4 linked regions of the Homo sapiens genome follow. The protein of the gene in region 1 interacts with the protein of each later gene in a pairwise test. Each region holds a gene or a part of one and is shown in the gene's direction. Other genes may lie near its edges.

Evidence for each region. Proteins that work in one complex are often made in the same cells at the same time.
Region 2: the proteins of COMT (region 1) and SLC7A8 interact in binary tests that used the Homo sapiens proteins (3 or more experiments, as listed by UniProt).
Region 3: the proteins of COMT (region 1) and GSN interact in binary tests that used the Homo sapiens proteins (3 or more experiments, as listed by UniProt).
Region 4: the proteins of COMT (region 1) and TMEM205 interact in binary tests that used the Homo sapiens proteins (3 or more experiments, as listed by UniProt).

What each region holds. Positions count from the first base shown.
Region 1 is NC_000022.11:19,940,422-19,944,603, forward strand, and holds the start of COMT (catechol O-methyltransferase), read left to right. Parts: upstream 1-1,382; 5' UTR 1,383-1,476; intron 1,477-4,182. Other genes in the region: TXNRD2 (thioredoxin reductase 2, mitochondrial isoform 5 precursor), read right to left, coding at 1,280-1,382. UniProt on the Homo sapiens protein: Catalyzes the O-methylation, and thereby the inactivation, of catecholamine neurotransmitters and catechol hormones. Also shortens the biological half-lives of certain neuroactive drugs, like L-DOPA, alpha-methyl DOPA and isoproterenol.
Region 2 is NC_000014.9:23,177,161-23,180,660, reverse strand, and holds part of SLC7A8 (large neutral amino acids transporter small subunit 2), read left to right. Parts: intron 1-3,500. UniProt on the Homo sapiens protein: Associates with SLC3A2 to form a functional heterodimeric complex that translocates small and large neutral amino acids with broad specificity and a stoichiometry of 1:1.
Region 3 is NC_000009.12:121,271,162-121,274,661, forward strand, and holds part of GSN (gelsolin), read left to right. Parts: intron 1-648; exon of another isoform or gene 649-702; intron 703-3,500. UniProt on the Homo sapiens protein: Calcium-regulated, actin-modulating protein that binds to the plus (or barbed) ends of actin monomers or filaments, preventing monomer exchange (end-blocking or capping).
Region 4 is NC_000019.10:11,343,469-11,347,600, reverse strand, and holds the start of TMEM205 (transmembrane protein 205), read left to right. Parts: upstream 1-1,332; 5' UTR 1,333-1,981; coding exon 1,982-2,081; intron 2,082-2,185; coding exon 2,186-2,349; intron 2,350-4,132. Other genes in the region: CCDC159 (coiled-coil domain-containing protein 159), read right to left, coding at 974-984. UniProt on the Homo sapiens protein: In cancer cells, plays a role in resistance to the chemotherapeutic agent cisplatin.

The sequences.
Region 1 (4,182 bases):
GTTCAGTTTGTTCTTTCCCTTAAAATAGGAAGATAAGGGCATTATCCCCCTAAGTCTCGTATGATATTCCCCATTCTGAGTCCAGAATACCTAGAAATTTGGAATTTGGCTATTGCCGTGTCTGGACTGTGAGTATGGGAAGGGGAAGCTTTTCTGTCTGTTGTCCCCACTACCGCCCCTCACATCCGTGATTCTGAACCCCATGATAAATGCCCTTTGAACCTTTTTCCTCCTTTTGATGCCGAATCCCCTTTTATGGGACTCCGCCAGCACGGGTGCATTTAACCTTCCTGAGCTTGCCCACCTGACGCATGCAGCCAAGAAGCTTTGAAAGATGGAGTGCCCTGGCTGAGGGTTCCAGGTCTCAGCAAGGCCACGAGGTGGTGACTGCCTCCCAGAACTCTGTTGGGCCACCCTCCGTCCTGGAGACCCCCAAAACCTCCATAGCACCAACTCTGCCCATTCACACACACAGTCAGCCCTCCCTCCCGAGTCCACCGCGGGCAGAGGGCCAGCCACCATGCCTCCCATAGCCGCCATCCCTGGGAAGGAGCCCTGACCCCGTCCTTACACCCCTCTACACTCACTGCCTGTGGGGAGAGCTGCTCGCTGTCACAAGCATCCAGGGGGCTGGGTCGAGGGGCCCCCTGCATGGTGGGGGACCATGTTGTCGTGCATGGAATGAAACTGGCCACACATAACAGATATGGTGGCGCTCTGGTCGGATCTAGGGGAGTCTGTCCTACAGGATGAGGCTTGAACTGTCCTGAGTGACCAGACACCCAGCCTCTGCTTCGAGTGCTCAGTTATGATTATTGTCCTGATTTAGTTAACTGTTCTTCAGGGGCTCCAGGAGGACGAGTGTGTATCCTCCCATTGCTCTGTGCAGCCTCTAACCTCTAGAGTCTAGGGGTCTGGGGAGAAGTTGGGAAGTCTGGCCAGTGGGGCCGGTGCCTGGTGACCTCGGGAGGTGGGATATCATCATCTTCAGAACTGTAGTTGTTACTGGGATACCAGCTCTGGGAGACCACAGGTGCAGTCAGCACAGCAGGACCTTAGACAAGGCACCCAGCCCCAGTTTCCCCACCTGGGAAGGGGGCTACTTGTGGCTAGAAGCAGCCCGGACTCCTGAGCAAGACTAGACCAAGAGGCCGGTATGTGGACACCCCCGCGTGGGCACCCCCACGGGGACACCCTGGCCACCGCCGCGCGGACACCCTCACGAGGACACCCCGGCCGCGCGGACACCTACCGCGGGGACGCCCCGACCCCATCCTACCTGCTGCGCCCCGCGCCGCGCCCCGCACCCCGCCCGCCACGGCCTGCGTCCGCCACCGGAAGCGCCCTCCTAATCCCCGCAGCGCCACCGCCATTGCCGCCATCGTCGTGGGGCTTCTGGGGCAGCTAGGGCTGCCCGCCGCGCTGCCTGCGCCGGACCGGGGCGGGTCCAGTCCCGGGCGGGCCGTCGCGGGAGAGGTGAGAGCGCTGGCTAGACCGGGGCCGAATGCGGCCGGATTCGGGGCGGGGGCCTTCAGACCTAGGGTGGAACACTGGGATAGGGTGTGGGGAATTCGGACCGCTGTGAAGTGATCTGACGTTGGGTGGGAGTCTCCGGACTTGGGGTGGGGAATCTGGATGGGAACTGGGGAATTCGGACCTTGGGTGGGGATCTTTGGACCGGGGTGGGGTCCCCAGACTCCTTGTGGAAAGCTGAGGTTGAAGATCTGTGCTGTGATGAGGGGCTCCAGATAGCGGTGAGAGATCCCGCTTCAAGACTGGGTTGGGGGTCCAGACCAGGAGGATAAGCCTCTCCCTGGAGTAGGGCTTGACCTGGTGAGGGTGTGGTAGAGTCACAGGGGAGGGTCCCACTTGGTCCTTGGGCTGGGATCAGACTCTCAGAGCTGGAGAGTTGCAGGAGGCCTGGGGGAGGGTCTGTGGAGCCCCAGACTCAGAGGGCCTTGGTGACTTCTCCAACAGGCTCCCTGTTGGAGGCCTTGGGGTACCCCAGGGCCTTTCCCTGCAAGAGAGAGGCTGCTCCACCAGGAAGGGGCCCAGGACTCCCCAGGGTCGGGGGGATGTGTGGTGTGCAGGACCACGTGGGAATGTTAGAGAAAGGGGAAGTCACTCCGGGCCTGCCCTGCTAACAGACCTGCTTTTTGGATTTTTCCAGCCAGGGATTTTTGTGTCCTGTTGCTTTTTATTGTTTAAAGTGACCCTCCAAGCCTGAGGGACCGTAGGAGCTGCCCTGCAGAGCCCAGTGAGACACTAGTTAATGCAGAAAAAACAGATTTTACTTGGTAACTACTGACAACATGAGAAAAAGCTGGCTCCATGCTGATTTGTCTAGATGTGCCTGGAGTTTAAAGGGAGAGTGAGGGAGTGGGAAGGGGTGGGGACTCAGTAGAGTTAGGGAAACAGAAAATCACCAAAACTGGGAAGGGAGGGTTGGCCCCTGTGAAACCAACTGATCTGGGTTTGCCACTGGGGCTTACCGAAGTCAGGCCCCCAACCTCCCACAGAGACTGGGAGACAGGGGCCCCATCCTCAGGTGTTGGCTGGAACACACAGGAAATTCTTGTGGCAGCCTTGAACTTCTCAGGCAGGCACTTTAGAGGGGGCTAGGATCGTTCTGGGAATGTGGCCTTGAGCTGTTAGGAGCTATGTTAGTGTTCGTTCCAGCCTAGATAGGCCAGGGTGAGGCCCAGTGGAGAAGGGGACTCTAAGGAGCCTGGCTGGAGTGTGGGGAGGGAGGGTCTTTGTCAGCACTCCCCCTGTGCAAGAAGAGCAGAGACCTGCTTCTTTCCTCTCAACAGTCCCCGTCCATTTTCTGTTCTGTGTTGTGTTCATAAACTACCAGCGGGACCATCTGTTGAGACTTGGTAGCAAAGGATTTTTGCTGGATGATGCAAGCAGTCAAGCATTTAATGAGGAAACAAAAATAACAGGCCAGGCACAGTGGCTCATGTCTGTAATCCCAGCACTTTTGGAGGCCGAGGAGGATCACTTGAGGCCAGGAGTTTGAAACAAGCCTGGGCAACATAAAGACCCCATCTCTACAAAAAATTTAAAAATTAGCCCGGCGTGGTGGCATGGGCCTATAGTTCCAGCTACTTGGGAGGCTGAGGTGAAAAGATCGTTTGAGCCTGGGAGGCGGAGGCTGCCATGAGCCATGATCTTGCCTCTATACTCCAGCCTGAGCAACAGAGAGCCCCTATCTTTAAAAAAAAAAAATAATAATAAAATAAAAAAATAAAAAGAAAGAAAGAAATAAAAACAAAGATGAATGGAGCTGTTGATAAACCCAGTTTTTGAGCCTACAGGGCAGCAGTTGAGGTTTCTGGCCGTTGGGCCCTAACAAGGCCAGCAGGGGCACTCAGGGACTTCCTGGTGTGTGGTGTGAAGTCTGTGATGATGGCATAGGCATTGGTATCCCAGTTGTGGTTACTTTCTGGAGAGAGCATGTGGCATGCAGGAGCTGGAGGGGGGGTCTTCCTGGGCGGCCTGTGTAGCAGCAGCTCCAGGCACAAAGGCTGCCCCTGGAGAATCTGTTGTGGTTCTGAGTTCTTTCAAGTTTATATCAAGTTTTCCGGCTTCAGTCTGCAGGGCTGTTTTTTTCAGATCCTGGGGGCAAAGGGCAGCTACAAGACCACCTGAGTCCCAATAGGGATTTGAGTTCTTGGTGACACCAAGTCAGGGAGGAGACAAATTAGAAATGTCAGTCTGAAGAGAGTGGTAGGTAGCCAGATACTGAAGGAAAGTAGATGGGAGGATTTGGTAAGGGCTGACGTGTAGGAAGGCAGTGACAGTCCAAGTGACAGGCAGATCATAAAACCTCAAGGATAGGCCGGGCCCGGTGGCTCATGCCTGTAATCCCAAGCACTTCGGGAGGCCGAGGTGGGCAAATCACCCGAGTCCAGAAGTTCGAGACCAGCCTGGCTAACATGGCAAAACCCTGTCTCTACTAAAAATACAAAACATTAGCCGGGCGTGGTGGTGCACTCAGGAGGCTGAGGCGGGATAATCGCTTGAACTGGGAGGTGGGGGGCTGCAGTAAGCCGAGATCGCACCACTGCACTCCAGCCTGGGCAACAAGAGCGAAACTCCATCTCAAAAAAGAATTAGGCCGGGAGCGGTGGCTCACGCCTGTAATCCCAGCACTTTGGGAGGCCGAGGCGGGTGGAT
Region 2 (3,500 bases), on another chromosome or scaffold:
AACCTTATGGATGGTACTTCAATGGGAGAATAATCTCAAAGCTCCCCATGGTGGCATTACAGTAACTAGAATGGCAATTCTGGTGTTCTGTGATGAAAAGAGATTCCAAATATGTGATTTCAGAGAAATTGGGATATTTTTGCAAAACATGAGAATCCTTGTAGAGTTAATAGGCACTATTCTACCCCAACTTAAGCTAGAAACAAATTTCCCCTTTAAGATGATAACAGGGGACAAAATCCATTCTGCTTCCCCTCCCGAGTTGCTGTTGAGTCACAGATGTGCTGAGGAACTGCCCTTTCCTCTTCTGGAGAAGTTTCTCAGTGGATGATCGTGATTCAAGTGTTTTCAAGACCAAATGCAAAAATAGAAATGGCATTTTCTGTGTAGATTTCAGGGATCTGGTGTCCAATGTCAACACTGCAGAAAAAAAGAGAACTAAAAGGCAAAAAAAGGGCCGGGTGCGGTGGCTCACACCTGTAATCCCAGCACTTTGGGAGGCCAAGGCGGGCGGATCACGAGGTCAGGAGATCAAGACCATCCTGGCTAACACGGTGAAACCTCGTCTCTACTAAAAAATACAAAAAATTAGCCGGGCGTCGTGGCGCATGCCTGTAGTCCCAGCTACTCGTGAGGCTGAGGCAGGAGAATTGCTTGAACCCAGAAGGCAGAGGTTGCAGTGAGCCAAGGTTGCGCCACTGCACTCCAGTCTGGGTGACAGAGTGAGACTCCATCTCAAAAAAAAAAAAAAAAAGTCAAAAAGAGAAAGGAAGTTTTCTAAGTGAATCAGGAGACATGTTATGGAAAAGTAGAATTTGTCCCATCTTTCTTTCTTTCTTTCTTTTTTTTCTGAGACAGTGTCTCGCTGTGTTGCCTAGGCTGGAGTGCTGTGGCGTGCTCACTGCATCGCTGCAGCCTCAAACTCCTGGGCTCAAGCGATCCTTCCACCTCAGCTTCCTCAGTAGCTGTGACCACAGGCATACACCACGACACCTAGCTATTTTAAATTTTTTCTTGTAGAAACAGGGTCTCACTGTATCGCCCAGGCTGGTCTCCAACTCCTGGGCTCAAGAAATCCTCCCACCTCGGCCTATCAGTGCTGGGATTACAGGCATGAGCCACCGTGCCCGGCCCCCAGATCTTTTTTTTTTTTTCAGGGACTGTGGCAAAGTTACATTTGCCCTAAATCTATCTCTCTCATACCTTACTGACTAAGAGGGATAATTTAAACTACATGTTTTGTAAAATTTCATTCACAATCAACATGGATGATTGAAAGCAAGGATAACAGAATGGTAGGTGTTATGGAAATATACAATGAATTAATAGAAGACTTATGCCAGAGAGTTCCTTATATCCTGATTGGGAGGATGAGATGCATATGTACTAAACAGAGAACATTCAAAATTAATGACATGGTTTAGTTGTGAAAGAGCTAAAGTAGGGCAAAGTTATGTGAATGGTGGGAAGCCAGGAGAGAGAGGTTCTTACTAAGAACTAGATTAAGAAGCATCTTGAAGGCTTTGAGGAGAAGATGAAGTAGGGGAGCTGATTCTGGGAGTTTTCTTAGGTAAAAGCATAATGACTAAACTGTTATTTCCTAGATCAAAGATTGTGTCCGTAAAAAAAAATTGAACTATGAGAAAAATTGAGCCAGGTGTGGTGGTGGATACCTGTAGTCCCATCTCCTTGATCATTTTAGCCCAGGAGTTTCAAGCCAGCCTAGGCAACAGAGCAAGACCTCATCTTCATTTTTTTTTTTTTTTTTTTTTTTTGGAGACAAGATCTCACTCTGTTAACCAGGCTGGAGTACAGTGGTGCAATCATAGCTCACTGCAGCCTCGAAAGCAATTCTCCCACCTCAGCCTCCCAAGTAGCTTAATAATTTTTAAAATTATTTTTAATTTTTTTTAGAGACAGGGTCTCCCTATGTTGCCCAGGCTATCTTGAACTCCTGGGCTCAAGCAATCCTCCTGCCTCAGCCTCCCGAAGTGTTGGGGTTACACGTGTGGGCCACCGTGCCCAACAAAACCTTGCCTCTTAAAAAAAAAAAGCAAGTGTCTTATATGTTTCTGAATCTTTAGTGTTTAACAGAATGCCTGCTAAGGAATACTTACTCAAATGATTGTTGAATTTAACCGACTCTAGGACAAAAATATGAATAGGAAACATTTATCTGCAGGGCTGCTGGGAACCTGGCTTGAAAATCTTTAAGCTAGGAGTAGTTTTATCAACCTGGACAATTAGGTTGGCCCATTTTAATCTTTTAACATCATCCTTGTCCTAACCTAATCAGGCTTTTGTTCTCCATGTACTTGGCTAAGGAAACCTGTTGGCAGCATATTAATTTAGATTTCACCATGAACGTGGAGTTCCCCCCAAAGTCGAAAGAGGGTGCGGAGGACAGCAAAGTTCATTTATTAATGATACCAGAGCTACTGTTAATAGCTGTGTTTATTAAACACTTAGTATATGCCAGGTACTCATCCAATTACCTAACATACCTGAACTTATTTGTCATTCACAGTAACTCATTTGGTAGACACTTTATTACCTCTTCCTCCAGATAGGAAATAAAGGCTCAAAGGGGTAAGCAACTTTGCTGAAGGTCACACAACTAAAAAATATTGGAGCTAGGATTCAAACCCAGAGCTTGTCTGCATCCTGAATCAAGCTTGTAAGCATTATTCTTCACTATTTCTATTTTTATCTCCTAAAGGAGTATTTTCTTTTAGAATCTGGACAGAGGTCCTTATTCATTTTTATAGATGAATGAATACTTATTGTATAGCAATTAATTTTGTGTTCCCAGTGAGGAAGACTCCCAGTATAGCAGGGGAGCTGGGCTGTCAGCTGGGAGTGGAAGAAAGTAATATTCCCGGTGCAATTGCAGGAAGACTTGGGTGAGCCTGAGGGGCATCTGGCCAGCACAGACCATGCTCGCATTCATTCCTGCACATGCACACCTTTCCTTTATGGACCAGTGTTCTTCCCAGCCGTGTTAGAGGTACCCACAGAGTTCCTGGCCATTTAGGTACTTTATACCAGTCACGTATCTAGGTATGTAACCAGAATCTGTGTCTTGAAGGCATTAAAAGGAAAACCTTAAACAAATTAAATTTAACAGTGTTTAATTGAGCAAAGAACAATTTGTGAATCAGGCAGCCTCTTGAACCAGAACTGATTCAGAGTTTCTGGGGCAGCCTCATGGTCGAAGAAGATTTATGGGCAGAAAAAGGCAAGTGACATACAGGAAATAGAAGCAAGGTACAGAAACAGCTTGATTAGTTACAGCTCTACATTTTCCTTATTTGAACAAGGGTTGGACAGTTGGCTGCCTTTGATTGGCTGAAACTCAGTGAATGGTACAAAAGTAGGTTACAGTCTATTTACACATCCAGTTAGGTTACGTTTCACTACATATGGAGAAATCTTTAAGTGGAATTTAAAATATGTAAGGAGGCAGCTTTCAGCTAAACTTAACAAAGGTGAAAAAGCTG
Region 3 (3,500 bases), on another chromosome or scaffold:
AGTTTGAGACCAGCCTGGTCAACATGGTGAAACCCTGTCTCTACTGAAAATACGTGCTGGGATGCTCCTGTAATCCTAGCTACTTGGGAGGCTGAGGTATGAGAATTGCTTAAACCCTGGAGACGGAGGTTACAGTAAGCTGAAATCACGCCACTGCACTCCAGCCTGGATGACAGAACAATACTGTCTCAAAACAAAAAAAGAAAAGACAAAAAAAGCTATCTTTTAATATACCAAGCACTGGAACATTAATTACTTTATTGATTCCTTGCAACCATTCCTCTGAGGTAGATACTAGTATCTTCTTTTACAGATGAGGAAACTGAGTCCGAGGCTGAATAACATGCCCCGGGTTGTGTGGCTATTGGGTGATGGTGCAAGGATTCCAGAGGTCTGACGACAGAGCCATAGCTATTAATGACAGCACTAAACATTCTCTTGAAAATTCTTTCTAGTCCTGGTATTAGGAGAACTGGTAAGGGAGTTTGTTATGCTTTTATGAGGGGTGGGTGTCGGTGTGCAGAGCTTGGAGAGCTCAGCCCTGCAGCAGAGAGGCCTGGAGGGGCCTCCCGGGGCTGTTTGTAAACTCATGCTTTCCTGTGCCATCCGCAGGACCCTCAGTGCAGGTCAATCTCCCCTCCATTTCAGGGAATCCAGGCTCCAAAAGGACACAGGACTTGCCCAGCAAGGTCATGTGGTGAGGTGAGAGCCCAGCCAGGACTGGTCCCCCCTTTTCATCAATCAAGCTTATGCTCTGGAAATCTATCTGGCGAAGCCAGGAAAACTGGACACTCTCCTGCTCCTTGGTTATTCCCTGAGAAAATGCCAGCAGAAGCAGAGAAAAGCACGTCCCAGGGGTTATGCATTTTGGGGAGGAAGGGAAAAAAAGAGACCAGTGTTTAGGCAGCCGGGGGATGTTAAGTAAAAATATCTCCTCGCTTTCAACGGAGTGAGCGTGTGTCATATTTCAGCCTGATGTGGTTTGTGAAGTTGGAGACCACAGGCAGGCTCAGTTCCTGCTGCTGGCCAGCTTCCCCTTCCCTCTGTCCCTCCCCTGCCATATGCCTGCTCTCGTCTGCCCTGCCTGGGACCACATCAGCAATTTAAGAATAGGGCAGAGAAAAGCAGTGGGTGTTGTGGGCAAGGGTAGGCAGCTGAAGGCCTGGGCTTGGGTCCTGGCTTTGCCAGTGACAAAGTACTGGGTGACTTGGGCTAATGCATGCCTTTCTCTGGGCCCCAGTGTCCATTCTGCACTGTAGGGTGGACAGCATAATGTCAGCCTTCCCAGCTCTGATGGCCTCTGAGTTGGAGGGCTTTGTGCTCCCCACATGTACTTGGGTCCGGCATGTCTGAGACACAAAGTGAGCCCGCAGTGGTGCAACTGGTGATTCAGCTACTGTTCTTGAATTTAATCTTTTCGGACTGAATTGATTGCCCCATTTTGCAGATAAGGGAGTTGAGGCCTAGGATTTGTTGATGTATCCCATTCCCTGCTCTACAAGCAACAATAATAAGGGCCACCATATGTAACACACTTACTATGTATGTTCACCTTTTGCTTTCACTATCTGCTTTAATCTTTTAACAGATCTACGAGGGGAGAGATAGTGACTCCATTTTACAGATGAGGAAACTGAGGCTCAGTTTAGAAAAATGAAAGGACTTACGTTCTCTTCTTTGAGTCTCACAATAGTCCTGGGGTTGTCATTATGTGACCCATTTTACCAGTGAGGAAACTCAGGCCTGGAGACGTGAGCTCCTTTGCCCAGGGGTCCCCAGGGCCCACACACAGCCTGTCAGGTTCCTTCCCAGGCCCTCCTGCTCCTCCCTCCTCCCTTGCTTGCTCTGCCTCATGGGGAGCCTCTTCACCTCTTGCATTCAGTGCCTGGGTTAAGGGATGAGAACAGTTTTCTTCCTGGGCTATAAAGTATCCCTGAAATTGACTCTTCCCAAGAGTGATCCAGAAAGGCTTTAAGCCATGGAGCCTCGCAGGGAACTCCAGTGAAGGGGTCGCACCAGTGGGAGTGGATTCGTTTATTCTGCTGAGCTGGCTAAGCAAACAGTCCTGTTATTTTCCAACCTCAATAAGAATATCATCAGAGCCAAGCTTATTTGCCAAGCAAAGTATATATATTCTACATATGTGAGCCTTCAGGGTGGGGCTTGGCCCTTAATTTCCCTGCTACAGAGACTGTGGCTGAGCTGGGTTTTGGTGGGTACTAAGTAAATACTAGTTAACTTGTTGGGTGTGTGTTGATGATGTGGGTGGCATATGTACTTTTTTCTCCCCACCTCCAAGGACCTTTTCCCCCCACCCTTATTATTTCTATTACACTTGTGATAGAAAATTTAGGAAATAAAAAAGTATATATATAAAAAAGAAGTGTTCATAACTAACCAGAGAAAATCACTGCCAACACCTGGGTGCCCTTCCTTCCTGATATTTTCAGTGCATTTTTTTTTACCCCCACACAATTATCCTATATTTATAATTGTCTGTTCTGACTTTCTGTTTTTTCTCAACATTATATCGTAAGTATTTTTCTCATGTTATTAAGGATTCTTTTTAAATTTAATTTTTAAAAGTTTTAAAAGCATACTATACCTAAGTAGATAAATGTTTATTCTAATTTAAATCTTTTATTCCAATAGTCCTAGGGATTAAAAAATGAAATAATGCTTTTTATTTATTAACAAAAAGGCTGAGAGAAACAGGATTTGCCCAAGATCACCCCCAAAGAACCAAGACTGGGGCTCCCCAGGGCTGTAGTTTGCATCCATAAATACAGAGAGAATAATGTTTATAATCTTGGGTATAAAAACTTCTGGTGAAAAGGTTGATCAAATGCTAGCTGTATTTCTCCCCCTTCCATGGCTTTCTACTGAGTCTCTCTCTCCTACAGGACCCTACTTTGCTCCATAATTAAGCAGCAAAGTATTTCAAGAGCTGTTCAGATTCTAGAAACTCATAGCAGATGAAATCGACAGATAAGTCAGATATCGAATATAGACATTAAAAGATCTGGGCACTAGGCTGTACCCTGTTATTGTCAGTGGCTCTTTAGTCCTTAAACAAGGGTCTTGCCTCCTACTTTTTTTTTGTTATGGTAGAAATAAATGCCCACCCGAGTTTTCATCACTCACTATTATTCTATCTTTGGTGTGCCTGTACCATGTTCCCTTAACAATCCTCAATTATGAAACATTTAGGCAGTTTATAAACAATACTGCAATGAACAACCTAGTGCATACTTTTTTTGTGTGTTCTTCTTTTATTATTTCCTAGAAGTGAGCCCTAGAAATGGAGTTCCTGAGTCAAAATGACACATTTTATAGCTTTTTCTTGTTAAAAAAAAAATTCAGTGACACTTGTGAAAACACGGTAAGGAAGTCTTTATTCAGGAACATTGCCTTGGGCATAGGGACCACTGCAACAGGGTCCTACAGTGAGGGAGAGAGTTTGGGCTCAACTCCTAATACAGCATGGGCGAGTGGGAATT
Region 4 (4,132 bases), on another chromosome or scaffold:
CCTAGCACTTTGGGAGGCCAAGGCAGGTGGATCACCTGAGGTCAGGAGTTCGAGACCAGCCTGGCCAACATGGAGAAACCCCATCTCTACTAAAAATACAAAATTAGCCAGGCGTGGTGGCGCATGCCTGTAATCTCAGCTACTTGGAAGGGTGAGGCAGGAGAGTCGCTTGAACCTCAGAGGCGGAGGTTGCAGTGAGCCGATATCATGCCACTGTGCTCCAGCCCGGGCAACGAGAGCGAAACTCCGTCTCAAACACAAACAGACAAACAAAAACTATTCAGCATATCTTCAGTAAAATCTTCCTTAATCCTTTTTTAGGCTCCTATTTTCTGAGCACCTAATTGAGTGCCGGGCATCCCCTAAGCATTCACTGGATCTTCACACCCACCCTGTGATGTACACGTTTTTCTTCTGCCTGAAATGTCCTAAGCTGCCCCTCCGAGAGTCACTGCCTCAGGGAGGTCCTCACTTCCAGGGACAGCAGAGTATGACGGTTAAGCAGGGAAACTCTCCAGCTAGATGGCCTGGGTTCAAATCCTAGCTCTGTCCCTTCCAGCTGTGTAATACTGGTCGCGTTACTGAACCTCTCCATGCCTCAGTGTCCCCAACTATAAAAACGAGATGTCATAATAGTCACCTTACTGGGATGTTGTGATTAGATAAATTAATCCATGCCAGTGCCTGGTATAGAGTAATGGGGAGCTGTGTTTGCTCTGGAATGTCACGCTGAGAACCCGGGACTTAGGGACCATAGGAAGCCTGGGAGGCTTGGAGGGGAAAAGGAGAGGCATTTGAGAACCAGCTTAGGTCCCCAGTAGTGCCTCCTCTCTCCCCGTCCCATCCCGGTTGCTGCTTCCGTGTCCCTCCCGGGAGAATTATTTAGGGAGGGGGCGGGGTCATCATCCTGGCTCCGCCCCCTGGGTTGTGAAATCTACACCCGCCAGGCTCCAGAACCCCACCTACCACATACCACCTGTTCATGCTCTCCCATCAGGGACCACGAAGCCAGTCCTCAGCTGTGACGCTGAAGTTTGATCCCGCGGGGACACCATCGTATTAAAACGCTCAGAGACTGAGTCACAGAGAGGGGTGTGGCCGGCATTTTAGTTCCGCCCCTGCCGGAGTAGCCGAAGGCCTCATTGGCGCCTTCACGCTTCAGCTGCGCTTAGTAGCCGCGGCGTAATTGGATAAAAGCCCGTGGAGGGGGCGGGATCCCAGGGGGGTTTCTACGATTAGTCAATACCCAGGAGGGCGGGATAGAAAGGTGCAGATCTACGACCCGATTGGCTTCGGGCTCAGCTGGGAGGCGGGACGAATTATTGGTTGGGGGAAACCCACGAGGGGACGCGGCCGAGGAGGGTCGCTGTCCACCCGGGGGCGTGGGAGTGAGGTACCAGATTCAGCCCATTTGGCCCCGACGCCTCTGTTCTCGGAATCCGGGTGCTGCGGATTGAGGTCCCGGTTCCTAACGGTGGGATCGGTGTCCTCGGGATGAGATTTGGCGTTTCCTCGGGGCTTTGGTGGGATCGGTGTCCTCAGGATGAGATTTAGGGTTTCCTCGGGGCTTTCGGGATCTTCACCTAATATCCGGTATTATTTTATGAGAGGAGTGGTCTTGGCTGTCAGAACTGGATCCCTGGGGTGATATTTGGGAATTAGTGGAGTGATCTCTGAAGACCTAGGGCTATGATCTGGAGCTGCTGTGGCTGAAATTTGGGGCCTCTGAAGTGGCATGGAGATTGAGGTCCAGAGAGCCTGAGATCTTGAGGGCTGACATTTGGAGAGATGGGGTCGAGGGTTGTCTTTGGGCCTTGACTGCTTTGGGCCTTTCTCACTCTCATTCCCGGGATGCTTTGCCAGAATCTCTGCTGGATTGGCCGTAACCCTGTCCCCGAGCGGGCTCACAGGGTCTGAAGGCCACGCATGAGGCAAAGGTAAAGTTCTGAGCCACCCGGTGCCTCCTTCCCAGGACTGCAAGATGGAGGAAGGCGGGAACCTAGGAGGCCTGATTAAGATGGTCCATCTACTGGTCTTGTCAGGTGCCTGGGGCATGCAAATGTGGGTGACCTTCGTCTCAGGTAGGGACCCTCAGCTTGGATGTCATGGGTACCTGGGGTGGGGATGGAAATAAGAGGGGAACCGGGAAGTGCCCTAACACCCCTGTGGTCCCCATACCCTGCAGGCTTCCTGCTTTTCCGAAGCCTTCCCCGACATACCTTCGGACTAGTGCAGAGCAAACTCTTCCCCTTCTACTTCCACATCTCCATGGGCTGTGCCTTCATCAACCTCTGCATCTTGGCTTCACAGCATGCTTGGGCTCAGCTCACATTCTGGGAGGCCAGCCAGGTACGTGGGTTTGAGTGCCACTGCCCTCTGGAGACTTGTTCCCAGGACCTCAGTCAGCGCCTATGGCTACACCTTTTCCAGGGGGGGAAAAAAAAAGGCTAGGCATGGTGGCTCACGCCTGTAATCCCAACACTTTGGGAGGCCGAGGTGGGCGGATCACGAGGTCAGGAGTTCAAGACCAGCCTGACCAACATGGTGAAACCCCGTCTCTACTAAAAATACAAAAAAATTAGCCAGGCGTGGTGGTGTGCACCTGTAATTCCAGCTACTCAGGAGGCTGAGGCAGGAGAATTGCTTGAACCGAGGAGGCAGAGGTTGCAGTGAGCCGAGATCATGCCATTGCACTCCAGCCAGGGCGACAAAGCAAGACTCCATCTCAAAAAAAAAAAAAAAAAGGAAAGGAAAGGAGAGGAGAGGAAAGGAGAGGGGAGGGAAGAGGAAGGGAGGGGAGGGGAGCCCCTTCTTCCTGGTAGATACAAAGCTGGGCTCTGGATACCCTTGAGCAGTGCACAGCCTGTACAACAGTCCCCAGCAGCCCTGTCTATCCCCCAGCATCTCCCTGCTAGCTGCTGTTCCCTCTCCTCCCGCTGGCTGGGCCTGCTGCCAAGCTGTGGTGACTCAGCTGAGCTGGCACATTGACCCCAGCTTATTGTTTAAAAACCAGCCCGACTGGGAATTTATGGTTTCCTATCCCCTTCCACACATTTTTCTGGCCACAAGGCAAGAAACTATCTCTGCATCTCAGATTTCTCTATTTACTCTGGCCTTCCCTTGCCTGCATTATGTTTCATAGACGTGGGTAAGTGAGACCTGACAGGTGTTTCAAGAATAATCTCACAGACAGGAGGGGATTATGGGTAACTAGAACTTCACAGACTGTTTTTTTTTCCTTTTATTTATTTATTTTAATGAAACAGGCTCAGAAGGTATTCAAATACTTAAAACAGATAGAGATGGTGTTATAGCAATGTGAGAATGGCAAAAACATTTTTCCTAATTAAAAAAAATAGGCTGGGCGCAGTGGCTCATGCCTGTAATCCCAGCACTTTGGGAGGCTGAGGTGGGTGGATCACGAGGTCAGGAGCGCGAGACCATCCTGGCTAACATGGTGAAACCCCGTCTCTACTAAAAATACAAAAATTAGCTGGGTGTGGTGGTGTGCGCCTGTAATCCCAGCTATTTGGGAGGCTGAGGCAGGAGAATTGCTTGAACCCAGGAGGCGGAGATTGCAGTGGGCCAAGGTCACGCCATTGCACTCCAGCCTGGGCAACAAGAGTGAAACTCAGTCTCAAAAAAAAAAAAAAAAAAAAAGATGAGGGTCTTTGCTGTGTTGTTCAGGCTGGTCTTGAACTCCTGGCTTCAAGTGATGCTCCCACCCCCATCTCTGAAAGCACCGGGATTACAGATTACAGGCATGAGCCACCATGCCTGCCTTCAAAGACTTTTTGTTTTGTTTTGTTTGTTTTTGAGACAGGGTCTTGCTCTGTCGCCCAGGCTGCAGTGCAGTGGTGCAATCTTGGCTCACTGCAACCTCTCCTTCCCGGGTTCAAGCAATCCTCATGCCTCAGCCTCCTGAGTAGCTGGGATTACAGGGGGACAGCCCCCACACCTGGCTAATTTTTGTATTTTTAGTAGAGACGGGGTTTTGCCCATGTTGCCCAGGCTGTCCTTGAACTCCTGGCCTCAAGTGATCCACTCACCTCAGCCTCCCAAAGTGCTGGGACTATAGGCATGAGCCACTGCGCCCAGCCACTCAAAGACTTTTTATTCACCCTCTGTGGGT